Regions from separate parts of the Homo sapiens genome. Here region 1 is linked to region 2. The links come from fine-mapping of genetic effects on gene expression. Tissue or cell type: subcutaneous fat. Region 2 holds a variant in brackets; the other region holds the start of a gene. All regions are shown on one strand. Distances are from middle to middle.

Region 1 (8,102 bases), 65 kb after region 2:
ACTTGAGCCCCAGAGTTCAAAACCAGCCTGAGCAATGTGGTAAAACACCATCTGTACAAAAAATACAAAAACTTGTTGGGGGTGGTGGTGCGTCTGTAGTCCCAGCTACTGGGGAGGTGGGAGGATTGCTTGAGCCCATGAGTTTGAGGCTGCAGTGAGCTATGATCACACCACTGCACTCCAGCCTAGGTGACAGAGTGAGACCTTGTCTCAAACAAAAAAATTTTAAATTTAAAAAAGATAAAAGAATGAATTGGCTGACTCTCAATCCACTGAGGGGTCAGGGATGGATGTTAAACATCCTCTACAGCTCATCTCATTGAGAAACTCTACACAGAAGATCCCTGAGAAACCTGCCGATGCCCACAAGCCCCAGCAACCCACCACCCCAAGTCACAGGTGGCCACGGAACCTCACTTGCACATGTCCCATTGTGGCAGCTGCTCCGGGATGTTGAGGGCCTTCCGCACGTACGGGTTGTTGAGGTAGGTGGAAGCAGCTGTTGTGTTGGTGCAGGGGGGGTCCATGCGCACTTTATCCCCTGAGCGCAGCAGTGCCTGGAAGGCACAGACAGTGGGTCAGGGCCTCTGCTTCCCTGCCCCTCCCCCTGCCCCCACCTCACCAGGAGGAAGCCCACGCCCTCGCACACCTGATGCCACATCCGCTTGAGTGGCAGGCGAGTGAAGATGTTGCCCAAATCCTGGACCACAACAGTGTCCTTCTCATACCTGCAATGTGAGGTGGGGGAATGGGTGTGGAGCCTCCAGATGGGGCTGGGGTTGGCTCCAGGGGCACCCAGCAGCACCTACCTAAAATGGCTGGGCACCCCTCCAGCACACGGGGCATAGAGATTGTAGATGTTGAGGCCAGAGTTGCCCACGATGCGGGCCACTTCCTGAAGCTGCAATGATACACCAAGCCACCATGCTTTACAGATCCCCAGCCTCTCCACGACCCCACCAAGTTGTCCCAAGATTTACTGCTCTTGGATTTCACCTCTTCACCCACTTTTTTTCACAGGTAGGGAAACTGAGGCTCAGTGGCAGGAATCTTCCCAGACCTGGGTCCAAATCCTAGCATCACTGCCTCCCAACACTGTGACTTCAGACAGTGATTTCAAAATTCATAGCCCTCAGTTTCCTTATCTGGAAAATGTGGGTAGTATGATCTCATTTGAGGGGGAATCTTGAAGCTTAAATAATCTACATAGACACAGTTCAGCACAGTGCCTGCCACGTTGCAGGTGTTTGATAAATGTGAAGAAGTCCTTTCTCCTCACGGAGGTTATGGGATTTGCCACCATAGGAGGTGGTGGTGGGAATACACACTTAGACACATGTCCCAGAGAACACTAAATTGCTTAAAGGTGCAAGAAAGCAATGAGGGACGGAGAACAAGGAGTCCCCAAGGAGGGAATGTGGTCCTGTTCTCAGGATTAGGGATGGGAGAGCTCATGCAAAGTGATGGCAGAACCTCACATTGGTCACGCATTCCAGGTCTTTGTTGTCATAGAAGTTACACTTGTTTTGAGAGCAGCAGTGGGTCTGGAGAGAAGACCAAAGCCTGTAGGAGATGAGAGTGAAAAGCGCATCAGCTGCTGGTGGGAAGAGGAAGGCAGAGGAGGCGAGCATACCCCCCACCTCCCACCAACCTCCCTGACCCTAGGAGACTGGGAAAGATATCACAGGGTGTGGTCTGTATGTCATCTAAGCTAGCTCCCAAAGAGGTGCCCCAGGGTCATACAGACAGGCCTCCTTAGTTCCTTTAAAATCTGATTTCTGGCTGGGCGCTGTAGCTCATGCCTGTAATCCCAGCACTTTGGGAAGATCATTTGAGGCCAGGAGTTCAAGTCCAGCCTGGCCAACACAGCAAAACCCCATCTCTACTAAAAATACAAAAAATTAGGCAGGTGTGGTGGTACGCGCCTGTAGTCCCAGCTGCCTGGGAGTCTGAGGCATGAGAATTGCTTGAACCTGGGAGGTGGAGGTTGCAGTGAGCTAAGATCGTGCCACTGCACTCCAGCCTGGGTGACAAAGTAAGAATCTGTCTCAAAAAAAAAAAAAAGAAAGAAAGAAAAACTGATCTCTATTCTTTGGCCTTTCAGCACTAGGTTCTTTCTGCAACCCACCTGCTGCTCATAAACCTGGGCTGGGCCTGTCATATCATGTGCCTGGAGGACAGACCTGAGATCATGTGACCTGCCTCACCCCAGAGATTGCCCAACTGCCCTATCCCATACCTGTTCCCCAGAAGGCCATGGTAGTAGGCAAAGTAGACCAGGGAGTTGTCATTCTGCTCATAGGAGGAGAGTCCATTGCCCACAGCCAGCCCCTGTGAAACACCCAGGGTGCTCAGCTCATGTGGAGGGCAAAAAGGAAGAGCCTCCCTCACCCTACCACCCAGACCTTCAGCAATCCGGAAGCTGAAACCCAGGGTGGTTTATGTAGGCCGGTGGGTATGAGAGGCCACTCAATGCAAAACACAGAGCTGGCAGCCTGACAGGTGAGTTTCCTGTGTGGGAGGCACACAGACAGACCTAGGGCAGCCGGTGGTGGGGAGGTTATGCAGGAAGCTGGGTTGGATGGGGACATTGACCAGTCAGTCTGACCTTGCTAACTGTAAGGCCACAGCCTCAAGCTACCTCCCTTCCCTCCTGCAGCTACCCTGCACCTGAAGGTTCATGCTGGGATCCTGCATGACCAGCACGGCCAGGGTGGGGATGTAGATGCCAGCATAGCTCTCCCCGGTCAGGAAAAGTTTGTTGTTCTTGTACTCCGGAAAGAGGCGGAAGAAATCTTGAAGGGCCTCAAAATTGCTCTGGGCGACCTGGGGATGGCAGAGCAAGACAGAGGGAATCAGGAAGCTTTGGTATTTGAACTGGAAAGAACTTCAGAGATAATGACATTAACCCACCCTATTTGTGCAAGAGGAAGTGACTGGCCACCATACCACAATAGCATATGACAGAGCGAAAAGTAGACTCCAAGGCCATGCTCTCTCTCCCAGCATCATGCCATGGATGGAGGACCGGGGAGCCTGGGGCAGATGGGCAGGCACCAGACTCACCTCAGTGTCATTAGTTGCATAAAACTTGTCATCGGAGTAGGAGAAGCCCACCCCAGCTGGGGACTCCAGGTATAACACATTGGCAATCTAGAGGGGAGGGAAAAATTAGCTAAATGCCACCCCATCCAAGTGCCCAGACACACCCACAGCTCCAGCTATACCAGATTCCAAGAATAGGGGTTGTACTCCAGGGTGACACCATCTGGCTGGACCTGAGGAGGAAAGAGATGGCTGAGTAAGTCCCAAGGGCCAGCTGGGTGGAGGGAAAGGGCCACCATGAGAGGCACTTTACATGTGGGTAAAACCTCTGAGAGGTACAGGCAGCAAAGCCAATGGCATAGAGGAAAATCCCGAGGCTTAGAAGGAAGGAAACTTTTTGGAAAATCACAAAGCCCCTCTCTCGCTTTCCCCAGCCTTTTACTTTGGGAACTGTGCTTTCCCCCTGCTGTCCACTCACCAGGAAGGGGCCATGCTCTGTGAGGAGCCCATCTAGTGAGCTGCAGCCGGGACCCCCATTGAGCCAAAGCACCACAGGGCTGTTCTCGGGATCCTTCTGGGACTCCACAAACCTGGGAGGGGGGTCAGGGCAGGGTTGGCGCAGTTGGAGGGGCCCTTTCCAGCCCTCCCGGCTCCCAGGCATCCTCAGGGGTCTGCAGAACTACCCCCCATCCCTCATCCGTCATCTCTTCTCCCAATCCCGCCCAGAAGGCAGGGCGGCAGACCAGTAGTGGAGGTGCTTGGAGCCGGAGCCTTTGAGGTAGCCGGAGTACTGGCGGAAAGACGGCTGCTTGGCCAGCCCGGGGAGGCGCTGGATCTCGTCCTGGTCGGGGGCTGCCTCGCCTCGGGACGCCCAGGACACTAGCAGCAGCAGCAGCAGCAGCAGCAGGAACAGCGGCGGCGGCGCGGCTCGGATCATCTACGGGAGGCAGCAGAGGGGCTGTTGACTCGCTCCTCAGCGCTTCCGTGCAGCAGCCCCCGGGGAGTTGCTGGCGGCGCCTCCGCGAGGGAAGCCCCGGCCCCAGCGCCAGCTCCCACCCGCGAGCCTCCTCTGCCGCGCACCGATCCCGGGCTCGGGGATCCCCTCCAGCCTCCGGTGCCAGCTCACCTCTGCTCCCCCGCGTCCTTGCTCTCCAGGAGGCGCCCGGGGACTGGAAGTCATGTGTACGAGTCACGTGAACTCCGGCGCCACGTGACAGTCTTCCTCCCGCCCCTTCTTTGGTCCCTACGGACCTGGGGGGCGGTGGCGGTCAATGCCGGGTCAAGGTCCGCGGGCCTCGCAGATCGTAGCCCGGGCGCACGCGATCAGATGATCCTGTTGTGGACGGCTAAGTTGTAGGCGGGATGGCTGAGAAAGCGGCGCTAGGACCCCCGGGCAGAGGCTCGGGGAAGGGAGTCAGGGGGGAAATGCCTTACAAGGTCGCCTTGCGGTCACCATCATTGCCCGCCGCCCAAAATAGCCCCCGGCGCCAGCTGGCCTGCCCTATGGCCGAGAGATGGCTGCTGCCTCCGAGCCCGTGGATTCGGGTGCACTCTGGGGACTCGAGCGCCCGGAGCCCCCTCCCACCCGCTTCCATCGGGTGCACGGTGCCAACATCCGCGTGGACCCCTCTGGGACGCGGGCCACACGCGTGGAGAGCTTCGCCCACGGCGTGTGCTTCAGCCGCGAGCCGCTGGCCCCGGGCCAGGTCTTCCTGGTCGAGATCGAGGAGAAAGAGCTGGGCTGGTGCGGACATCTGCGTCTCGGTCTGACCGCGCTGGACCCCGCCAGTCTGGCCCCCGTTCCCGAGTTTTCTCTGCCCGATCTGGTCAACCTGGGCCACACCTGGGTCTTCGCCATCACGCGCCACCACAACCGCGTGCCCCGGGAGGGCCGCCCGGAGGCGGAGGCAGCGGCCCCCAGCCGACCTCCAACCCTCCTCGTGGAACCATATCTGCGCATTGAGCAGTTTCGCATTCCCCGGGACCGCCTGGTGGGCCGCAGCCGGCCAGGGCTCTACAGCCATCTCTTGGACCAGCTCTATGAGCTGAACGTGCTGCCTCCGACCGCGCGCCGTAGCCGCCTGGGTGTCCTCTTTTGCCCGCGCCCCGATGGCACGGCCGACATGCACATCATCATCAACGGCGAGGACATGGGCCCGAGCGCCCGGGGACTGCCAGCTGCGCAGCCCCTCTACGCGGTGGTGGACGTGTTTGCTTCCACAAAGAGCGTGCGCCTTGTCCAGCTCGAGTATGGCTGTAGGTATCCCTGGGCAGCGACCCCTCCTGGCTCAGTGTGGGGACTGGAATCTACTAGGGCTCCGTAGCCCATGTGCTAGGCCTTCGTCTGTCCGGCACTAGTTTAAGAGTGGGAGAATCTAGCTTCAAATTGCACCTCTGCTTGTGATCTTGCACAAGCCTCTACATGGTTTTGGGCCTTGGTACCTATCTTGGTTGATTGATTAAGATGCCCTACAAGTTCCCTTTTAGTTTTGATAGTGTTTCCTGTATTCACCTAGGGCAGGGATTCTAAACCAATTTTAGATATTAGGGGCCTCTTTGAGAATTGTTTGCCCTTTTCTTAGAAACATGCTTGGCCGGGCACAGTGGCTCACACCTGTAATCCCAGCACTTTGGGAGGGGGAGGCAGGCAGATCACTTGAGGCCAGGAGTTCGAGACCAGCCTGGCCAACATGGTGAAAGCCTGTCTCTACTAAAAATACAAAAAGTAGCTGGGTGTGGTGGCATGTGCCAATAATCCCAGCTATTCAGAAGGCTGAGGCAGGAGAGTCACTTGAACCCGAGAGGTGGAGGTTGCAATGAGCCGAGATCTCACCAGTGCACTCCAGCCTAGGCAACAGAGCAAGACTCTGAAAAAAAAAAGAAAGAGAGAGAGAGAGGAAGAGAGAGAAAGCAAGCAAGCAAGCAAGCTAGCTAGCTCAAGCCTGGGCAACAAAGTGAGACCCCATCTGTACAAAAAATTAAATAATTATCTGGGCATGGTGGTGCATGCCTGTAGTCCCAGCTATTTGGGAGGCTAAGGCAGGAGGATCGCTTGAGCCCAAGAATTGAAGGCTGCAGTTCACTGAGCACTGCACTTCAGCCTGGGTGACAGAGCAAGACCCTCTCTCTTTAAATAAAAAAAAAAAAAGAAAGAAAAGAAAGAAACATGCTCATAGACTTGGGCATATTGGCTATTGGCTTCGAGGCATAACAAACCCCAGACTGAGAGCTTCTTAATGCTGAGTATGATTCATTATAGCCCTGGTAAGCATTGCAGTTATACCTCTCATCACATTTCATGAACTCAATGCACCAGAACCCTCTTTGTGCCAGGCCTGTGCTGGAGGCTTCAGTTGCACAGGCAAATCAGACACTACCCCTGCCCCCAGAAGCTGCTAAGTGAATGGGGAAGGGATTGTGCTAAGTGTTATGATATAAACAGGGCTGCAGCTTTGTGGCAGCTCTCAGGAAGAGGTGCTTCTCTCAGCCCCATGAAGCAGGCTGGGCCCAGAGAGCAGTAAGGACTTGCCCACATTTAATGACAAAGTGGGGACCATGACCTAGACCTTCTGGATCTTGGCCTCAGACCCACCCTCCAGTTCAGTTTGCCTTTCACAGTCTTCTTCCCACAGTGCCATCCCTGCAGACTCTGTGCCGCCTAGTGATACAAAGGAGCATGGTGCACCGGCTGGCCATTGATGGGCTCCACCTGCCCAAAGAACTTAAGGATTTCTGCAAGTATGAGTGAAGACCCACAGTGCACCAGAGCACAGCTGCATCCTGGAGCCCCAGACCTGTGGCTGGCTGGTCCGAAGTTGGCCACATTGCTGCCAGCCAAGACCAGAAATAAACAGCCGATGCTGACATCTTGATCACTGGAAGGTCTCCTTGCCCCTACAGCCTATGAGAGTCACTTCGTTTAGAATCACTGCAGGTCAGCAGGTCGGAGCAAAAGAGCAGGGGTCCCTAGGCTGGCTGCTTGTTAGAGTCATCTTAGGATATGTAAAGAGTGCTGGTGTCCCACATCCCATCCCTAGGGATTCGTATTTGATTTGTTGGGAAATTAGGCCTAGACATTGTGTTTTGTAAAAGCTTCTCAAGAGATTCTCATGTACAGCCAGGGTTGAGAAGTATGTCCCTAGAAAAAAGGTTCCAACTTTGTCATATATTATAATCACTTGAGGAATTTTGAAAAATACCAATACCTGGCCTGTAATCCCAGCACTTTGGGAGGCCGAGGTGGGCAGATCACTTGAGGTCAGGAGTTTGAGACCAGCCTGGCCAACATGGTGAAACCCTGTCTCTACTAAAAATACAAAAGTTAGCCAGGTGTGGTGGCAGGTTCCTGTAGTCCCAGCTACTCGGGAGGCTGAGGCAGGAGAATTGCATGAACCCAGGAGGCAGAGGTTGCAGTGAGCTGAGGTCTTGCTCCTGCACTCCAGCCTTCCAGTCATGGCGACAAAGTGAGACTCTGTCTCAAAAAAAGAAAAAGAAAAATACCAATACTGGGTCTGACCCGAAGTCTTACTCTACAAGGCACGAAGCACTTGGCTCCTGTGTTTCCATCTCTGGTCATCTGCTTCCATACAAATGATCTCATTTCATCCTCAAAACTCCTAATGAGGTAGTGGGCAGTCATCAGACACACTTTACAGATAAGGATATCAAGGAACAAAACTATCTGGGTGACTCGTTCAAGGTTAGGGCAAGAACCTAGAACACCCAGCTCCTGGTCTGGTGCTCTTTTAACCTCATCCTATTGTCATGTCCAGGTTCTAGAATGAATAGGTCAACGCTGTAAAGTGGATTCCAAGTGTGAAGGGGAGGGTCTATGAGGTGACATTCTAGAAGGGTGAAGAAGGGAGGACAGGCGGCAGATCACTATTCCCTCACAAACCGGGGCTTTGGGGAAGCCATGTCCTACTTCAGGACTCCACAAACTCATCCAGGTCCTCTGCCTTCCGGCCAAGGTGAGCGGGGGGCACCTGCAATTGGAGGGAGTGCGGCAGCTTCCCCTGAGAAGTTGCTTTCTGGCTCTGGGGAGGTGGCGGTTCTGC
Region 2 (8,000 bases):
TGAAGACGCACAGCACTGAGAAGCCCCACATGTGTGACAAGGTGGGTGGGAGCCAGGGCTGGGGCTGAGAGGAGGGCCTCCCCTGGGTGATGGAGGGTGATCGCCATCTCACTGCTCTCCACCCCTCACAGTGTGGAAAGTCCTTTAAGAAGCGCTACACCTTCAAAATGCACCTGCTCACGCACATCCAGGCTGTTGCCAACCGCAGGTACATCCCCTTGGAGGCCCCTGGGGACGGGAGCAGTCCCCAGCTCATTACTGAGCTTCCCTCCCTCTAACCGCCTCCAGGTTCAAGTGTGAGTTCTGTGAGTTTGTTTGTGAAGACAAGAAGGCACTGCTGAACCACCAGTTGTCCCACGTCAGTGACAAGCCCTTCAAATGCAGCTTTTGTCCCTACCGCACCTTCCGAGAGGACTTCTTGCTGTCCCATGTGGCTGTCAAGCACACAGGTCAGGCTGGACACACCCCAGCCCCACTCACCAGCCCTCAGTGCCCTGTACCCCTGATCAGAGGCTTAGCTCCCATCCTCTTCCTTCCCCCTCGGTAGCCCCAGCCACAGAACAGCCCAAGTCCTTCAAGTGTAAAGAGAATTTCCCATAGGCGTATTCACCCTAACCTGAGCCTGGGTTCCTGCTTGGCTGGTTGTTCTCTGGATGGCTCTGGGCCGGTCGCTTGCCCTCTCCGAGCCTTCCATATTTATGAAATGGGGGAATCAGAGTGCCTGCCATATGGCTATGATGAAAGTAAGTTCCATTTGTTCCTTGAGCCTTGTGTGTGCTGGCACTGGGGCTGGAGAGGAGGCTCTTCCAGACCCTGCCTTGGCAGATGAAGCTGCAGAAGCAACGCCATTGGCTTGGCCCACAGAAGCTGCACTGCAAACATTGTTTCTTTGGTGCCTAGCTCCCTGGTCAGCACACTAGGGGCGATTACAGAAAAGGAGCCAGGGGTTCCCTTAGCCAGAGTCCTGTGATGACCCACAGGAGCTTGTAGTCACATGACTTTGCAAATAGGTAGGCACAGGAAGGCTCTTGAGTGCAGAGGGCGGCCCTGATTCATTTCTGTCCTGGGCCACCAGAATGGACAGTGGCATGTGTTTGCCTACATACGGGAATGAATCGCTGGAAGTCAGTCAGTTGGAGAGATCCTTAGGGTCAAGAAAGGATTCCTGGAGGGGGTAGGCTAGGGACGGGCAGACTTAAGCATGCCCCAACATGTGCCTCCAGGGGCCAAGCCCTTCGCCTGTGAGTACTGCCACTTCAGCACACGGCACAAGAAGAACCTGCGCCTGCACGTACGGTGCCGACACGCAAGCAGCTTCGAGGAATGGGGGAGGCGCCACCCTGAGGAGCCCCCCTCCCGCCGTCGCCCCTTCTTCTCTCTGCAGCAGATTGAGGAGCTGAAGCAGCAGCACAGTGCGGCCCCTGGACCACCTCCCAGTTCCCCAGGACCTCCTGAGGTAAGGTCGGGGCATGGGTCAGGATGACAGAGTGAGGCCGCTTCTCCCAGCCCCAGCATCATTTGCACATTGAGATGCAACAAAATAATCCCTGCCTCTTGAGACTGTGGTAAAAACTCACTGAGTCACACATATGCCAGCCCTAAGCTTAGAGTAAGGGTGGCTTTCTAGTGCTGGTAATAGAGAATGGAAACACCAGTAACTTAACTGTGATCATAGTTTTTATTCTCTCTTATACAAGAATTCCACAGGTCGGCAGTCTAGGGCTGGTGCGGTGATTATACAGTCGTAAGGGAATAAGTTCTCAGTATCTTTGCCCAGTCATCCCAGGCATATGACTTTCATCTTTGTAGTTGCCTCATGGTCCAGTATAGCTGCAGGAGCACCAGCCTTCCCAGCCACATCCCAGGCAGGAAGCAGGAGGAAGGGATGGGGGAGAGGCAAAAAGGATACCTACCATCTATCCATCATTCCTCATGAACTTCACCTGAAGATCGTTGCTTAGTCATGTGGCCACACTTTACCTAGCTGCAAGGGAGGCTGAGAAATGTCTTGGAGCTGGGTACATTGCCACCCTGGTGAAAATCAGAGTTCTGTTAGCAAGAGGGAAGAGGAGGATGGCCTCAGGATAGGTAGCTAGCAGTCTCTGCCACGTGAGCTGACACACTATCCCTGGAAAGATGGACCACATGACTTGCTGGTAGATCACAGGCCCTGGAATCACACAGTCATGGGTTCAAGCCCTCACCCTACTATGTATTAGGAGTGGGATTCTTGGCCAGCCACTTCACCTCTCTGAGCCTTAGTGGGTTCATCTGTAGCACTGAGCTCGTATATTTTGAAAACTGGTTATGGGCTGGGCATGGTGGCCCATGCCTGTAATCCCAGCACTTTGGGAGGCCGAGGTGGGTGGATCACTTGAAGTCAGGAGTTTGAAACCAGCCGACCAACATGGAGAAACCCCATCTCTACTAAAAATATAAAAATTAGCTGGGTGTGGTGGCGGCCACTTGTAATCCCAGCTATTCAGGAGGCTGAGACACAAGAATCACTTGAACCCAGGGGCAGAGGTTGTAGTGAGCCTAGATTGAGCCATTGTACTCCAGCCTGCATGACAGAGAGACTCCATCTCAAAAAAAAAAAAAGAAAAGTGGTTATGAAGATGAAACAAGCCAACAGATGTAAAACATCTGGCAGATCAGAGGTGCTTGGCAAATGGCACTTGAATCTGGGCTGGCCCCTCTCAGGCGTGGCCATATCTCCACCCCATAGATACCCCCAGAGGCGACAACTTTCCAGTCATCTGAGGCTCCCTCATTGCTCTGTTCTGACACCCTGGGCGGCGCCACCATCATCTACCAGCAAGGTGAGCTCTGTAGGAGGATAGGAGCTCATGGAGGGTAGGACCTCTGAGTTGGGCAGGGGCAGGTCGTGCTGGTGGGGGCTGGAAGATGGGGAGGGGGTGGTATTGGGTGCCAGTTTTCTAGCACTTTGTCAGGCTTAGGTCCCACCCCACCCAGGAGCTGAGGAGTCGACAGCGATGGCCACGCAGACAGCCTTGGATCTTCTGCTGAACATGAGTGCTCAGCGGGAACTGGGGGGCACAGCCCTGCAGGTGAGCTGCCTGGGAACCTGCTCCCCTTCCCAGCTACCGCAGGTACCCAGCCCTGCACTGGACACTGGGACTAGAGGAAAACAGTGTATCAGAGCTTCTCCGCCCTTGGGAGCTCCCAGGCAGTGGAGGAGACAGATCTGCTGAAGTCTGGTGGGCAAACAGAGAGGAACAGGCTTTGCCACGGAGGCCGCAGGGTATCCC[G/A]TCCATTCTCCAGAATCACTGGTGACCTCTGCCAGGTGGAGCAGTACACACTGCCCCTGCGGCATCTGGGGCCCTGTTCTTGTTTTGTCTTCCTCCCACCTCTGCAACCACCATGTGCCTGTGGGTGCCCCCACAGCTTGAACTAGCTTTTCCATCCACAAGAGCGCCCTCATTCCGGGACACCTCCTACAGCCTGCAGACCCCAGGGCTTCCTCTAGATCAGACCACTCTCTCGCGTTCCAGGGGTCTTGGTTCATGCACCTCCCCAAAGTTCAACACCTTTGCCCCTCCCTGCCCTCCCCGTTCACATCTGGCCTGGTCTCCAAGGCAGAGGGAAGTTTATTAGCCCCTCCTGTTTCCCAGCCTCATGAGAAGATGGAGAGTGTGTTTTTAAGATGATGAATTCCAGAAATCATAATAATTTAGTTCATGGCAGTTAGGGGTGTATAGAAGTTTTACATTTTTAGATAGGAAAATTTATCAGTCTTTTATAGTTTTCCCTTTGGTATCATCCCTAGAAAGACTCCCCCAACTTGTATCCCAAGGTTATAAAACATTCATTTATATTTTTTTCTTAGGGTTTTATTTTTTACACTTAAATCTTACTCCACCTGGAATTTATTTCTGGTGTATGCAGAAAGGTAGGGATCGATTTTTTTTTTTCCAGAAGTCATCCGACGTGGTATCTTCACCTGTGGTTTGAAGTGTCCTCCTCATATACTAGATTCCCAAATATGTAGGAGTCTGTTTCTAGACTTGAGTTCTGTTCTATTGATTTGTCTCCTGTTCCCATGCCAATCTCATGTGGTAGAGTTTTTCTGCTTACAAAAGCACATGCTTGTAAAAGAAACAAAATGGGCCTGGCGTGGTGGCTTATGCCTGTAATCCCAGCACTTTGGGACGCCAAGGTGGCTGGATCACCTGAGGTCAGGAGTTCGAGACCAGCCTGACCAACATGGAGAAACCCCATTGCTACTAAAAATACAAAATTAGCTGGGCGTGGTGGCACACGTCTGTAATCCCAGCCACTCGGGAGGCCGAGGCAGGAGAATCGCTTGAACCCAGGAGGCGGAGGTTACGGTGAGCCGAGATTGCGCCATTGCACTCCAGCCTGGCCAACGAGCAAAACTCCATCTAAAAAAAAAAAAAGAAAAAAAGAAAAAAATGAACATTAGGAAATGTTTCAGTAGAAGGTGAAAGTCCTTGGCATTTCTCCCCTCCCATCAGATACCCAGTAAATGGGTTCAGAAGAATTTCTTCAGGGATTTGTTCATGTTCATACCAACACCTAGACCTTTGTTCCTTAAAAAATGGGATCACATTATTGGCTGCTCCTCAGCGTCATCTTTTACCTAACAGCATGTGATGCACGGCCTGGCCAGCACCTGCAGTTACCCTTATTCTCCTAAGATCTCCATCTTGCATCTCTGTATCATTTGATCACATGGATGTTCTCAGCTATAGTTAGGCAGTCCTTTATTGGCTGGGTTCTTTCGTTTTATATTAATTCAAGCAGTGCTTCACTGTACATATATTTTCAGTGCTCATAAATTTTTTTTTTTTTTGAGATGGAGTCTCATTTTGTCACCCAGGCTGGAGTGCAGTGGCGTGATGTTGGCTCCCTGCAACCTCCGCCTCCTGGGTTCAAATGATTGTCCTACCTCGGCCTCCTGAGTTGCTGGGATTACAGGTGCACGTCACCACACCTGGCTACTTTTTTGTATTTTTAGTAGGGATAGGGTTTCACCATATTGGCCAGGCTAGTTTCGAACTCCTGACCTCAAGTGATCTGCCTGCCTTGGCCTCCCAAAGTGCCAGGATTACAGGTGTGAGCCACCGTACCCAGCCAACATCTTTGTAGTGTTTTTAAAAAGCCTCCTACAAGAAGAATTAGTGGGTCAGAGGGTATGGTGAGAAGCCTTGTAAAAAGATACGCCAGTATACGTGGCCACCAGTAGGGTATATTTCCCTGCATTCATGCCAATACACTGGGTATTATCAGTCTTTATAAATCTTTTTTTTTTTTTTTTTTTTGAGACAGAGTCTTGCTCTGTTGCCCAAGCTGGAGTGCAGTGGTGCGATCTCGGCTCACTGCAACCTCCGCCTCCCGGGTTCACACCATTCTGCCTCAGCCTCCCAAGTAGCTGGGACTACAGACACCCACCACCACGACTGGCTTCTTTTATTTTTTTATTTTTAGTAGAGATGGGGTTTCACCATGTTAAGCAGGATGGTCTCGATTTCCTGACCTCATGATCTGCCCGCCTCGGCCTTCCAGAGTGCTGGAATTACAGGCGTGAGCCACCACGCCCGGCCTCAGTCGTTATAAATCTTTACCAATCTCACACTTGTAATCCCAGCACTTTGGGAGGCCAAGGCAGGAGAATTGCTTGAGTCCAGGAGTTTGAGACCAGCCTGGACAACATGGTGAAACCCTGTCTCTTAAAAAATTAGCCGGGTGTGGCAATGCATGCCTGTAGTACCAGCTACTTGAGAGGCTGAGGTGGGAGGATCGCTTGAGCCCAGGAGGTTGAGGCTGCAGTGAGCTGTAATCGTACCACTGCACTCCAGCCTGAGCAATACCCAGTCTCAAAAAAAAAAAAAAAAAAAAAAAGTAATTGTATGACCGTAAATGAGGTTGAACTCCTCTCTGTATGTTCAGAGACCATTTTATTCCTTTCTAAAGTACCTGTTTGTGTCCTGTATTTGTTTTTCTATTGTTAGCTTTTAGTTATTGCTTTGCAGGAGCTCCATATATGAGGGAAGTCCACTTTTTATGAGTTGTGAAATATCCCCCAACCCCAATTTCTTTGTTTTTTGGCTTCATTTTATGGTTAATTTTGCTCTAGGTTTTATCTTTCTCTGTCATGATTAGAAAAATCTCCCTGTCCCAATTCTAAAATACTTACCTACGTTTTATTTTAATATATTTAGAGTTTTATTACATTTTAATCTTTAAACCATTTGAAGCCAACTGGAATAAGATGTACACTGGAGCTTTTTTCTAAGTGATTTGTCAGTTGTCCCCAGTATTTCTTGTCTGCAGCGCTGTTAGCATGTTGAGGCAGATACTATTGTGTGGTGGGGCGGTCCTGTGCATTATGGGGTGTTCAGCGGCATCCCTGGCCTCTCCCGACTATATGCCAGTACCATCCCCCTCCTGCTGTGATAAGAAATGTCTCCAGACGTTGCCAAATCTTTGTGGGGGGCACAACTGCTCTGCCCTATTCCTGTTGGTCTATTTCCAGTTGCTGAGTGGGATTTGGAAAGCCAGAGTATATTTTAGAAAGAACTTGGGCTATTCAAATGAGTGGTGGCAGCACTGGTCTGACTAGAGTGTGTGGGTGCATCTGGGACACTGAGATGGGGGAGGCGTCTTGCATACCCGCTCCTCTGCCACCAGTGCCTCCCATCCCGCCCCCTGGTGCCGTTGCAGGTGGCTGTGGTGAAGTCGGAAGATGTGGAAGCAGGGTTAGCATCCCCTGGTGGGCAGCCCTCCCCTGAAGGTGCCACTCCACAGGTGGTCACCCTCCACGTGGCAGAGCCAGGGGGCGGTGCAGCAGCCGAGAGCCAGCTAGGCCCTCCTGACCTACCGCAGATCACCCTGGCACCTGGTCCATTTGGTGGGACTGGCTACAGTGTCATCACAGCACCCCCTATGGAGGAGGGAACATCAGCTCCTGGCACACCTTACAGGTGAGACCTGCTGCCTGCAAGGCCCCTTTCAGCTTTTTGTAGGTGTGGTCGGTCGGTCCGATTTGGGCCCCACCCAAGCCTAGTTGGCAGGAGGCAAAAATCCCAATACACATCAAGTGATTAGTGGTGGAGTCTACCCTTCTCAGGAGGTCAAGAGCTACCATTTTTTAGCCACTTAGATATTCCAAGCACTTGGCACTCATGATGGGACCTAAGCCATTCCCATGAGACCCAGATTTCCCTTGTTTTACAAATGAGGAAATGGGCCAGGGAGGTTAAGTGACCAGCCTGAAACCACACATGCAGTAGGTGAGATTTGAACCCTGGTCCCTTTGGTTCCCATGCCCAAGTGCTCTTCTTGGGTGATCCCAGGTGTTCTTCAGTTCTGACACTCCGAGCAAGCTCAGGCCTCTTTACCAGCATTGAGGCCTGGCACCTGTACTTGGCTTCCCTACAGTGAATGAGCTTGGGCAGGCATGTTTATGTTCACCAAACTCTTAGGCCATCTGAGGAAGCCCTGAATCCAAGTGCCAAATTGTTGAGCTGAGCAGGGAGTCAGGATCCCCAGGCCCATGCCCTTGGCCAGCACCTGGGCGGCCAGTCTCAGCATTTGCTGTCTGCTCTTAGGCAGCAGGTCCTCGTTAGCCCTGCCTCCTCCACTAGCTCCTGGTGGTGGATTCACCGTTTGCTACTGGTTGGGTTAGACCCCTCTGCCTCACTGTGTGCCCCCCACCTCGCCATGTTTGCCGAGGACAAGAATTACCAGCTTTTGAGAAGGACCCATGCTTGAGTTGTAATCATTTACAAGAGACATGGTAGAGGGTCATTTGGTAACAGGGCAGAGCCACAGTTGAACCCTGGGCCCTTCTGACTTGAGTCCATCTGTGGTGACAGTCACTCCTCAGTTGATGCCTGTTGCTTGGGGAAGGGGGCTCCTGTGGCCCTCCATCTTCTCCTAGAACCTTCTCCATGCCCACAGCGAGGAGCCCGCAGGAGAGGCAGCCCAGGCTGTGGTTGTGAGTGACACCCTAA

Alleles and levels. Positions count from the first base shown, and alleles are read on the strand shown. Sizes are in standard deviations (SD) of each study's normalised expression.
As copies of A replace G in region 2, the expression in subcutaneous fat of the gene that starts at base 4,343 in region 1 goes up (small effect, 0.35 SD a copy in GTEx).

What was found. PIP is the estimated chance that this variant, and not a neighbour inherited with it, causes the effect.
Region 1: NEURL2 starts here. The variant in region 2 is fine-mapped to the expression of NEURL2 in subcutaneous fat (GTEx, PIP 0.98).

Annotation. Positions count from the first base shown.
Region 1 is chr20:45,887,449-45,895,550 of GRCh38, reverse strand. It overlaps NEURL2 (neuralized E3 ubiquitin protein ligase 2), which reads left to right and starts at 4,343. Exons shown (of 2, transcript NM_080749.4): 1 at 4,343-5,301; 2 at 6,678-6,917. The coding sequence starts at 4,560. The coding sequence ends at 6,793. It overlaps SPATA25 (spermatogenesis associated 25), which reads left to right and starts at 7,929. Exons shown (of 2, transcript NM_080608.4): 1 at 7,929-8,015. The coding sequence starts at 7,961. It overlaps CTSA (cathepsin A), which reads right to left and starts at 4,216. Exons shown (of 15, transcript NM_000308.4): 1 at 4,172-4,216; 2 at 3,789-3,982; 3 at 3,524-3,635; 4 at 3,228-3,278; 5 at 3,067-3,153; 6 at 2,671-2,826; 7 at 2,240-2,331; 8 at 1,479-1,563; 9 at 810-901; 10 at 650-728; 11 at 418-557. The coding sequence starts at 3,982. RefSeq lists enhancers at 3,880-3,929, 4,169-4,878 and a silencer at 3,970-4,239.
Region 2 is chr20:45,952,657-45,960,656 of GRCh38, reverse strand. It overlaps ZNF335 (zinc finger protein 335), which reads left to right. Exons shown (of 28, transcript NM_022095.4): 12 at 1-41; 13 at 132-208; 14 at 289-449; 15 at 1,224-1,456; 16 at 2,729-2,822; 17 at 2,977-3,071; 18 at 6,709-6,968; 19 at 7,948-8,000. Among named protein-coding and RNA genes, the nearest start is that of ZNF335, 16 kb to the left of the region's middle. The variant G/A (reference allele first, on the strand shown) is at 3,273.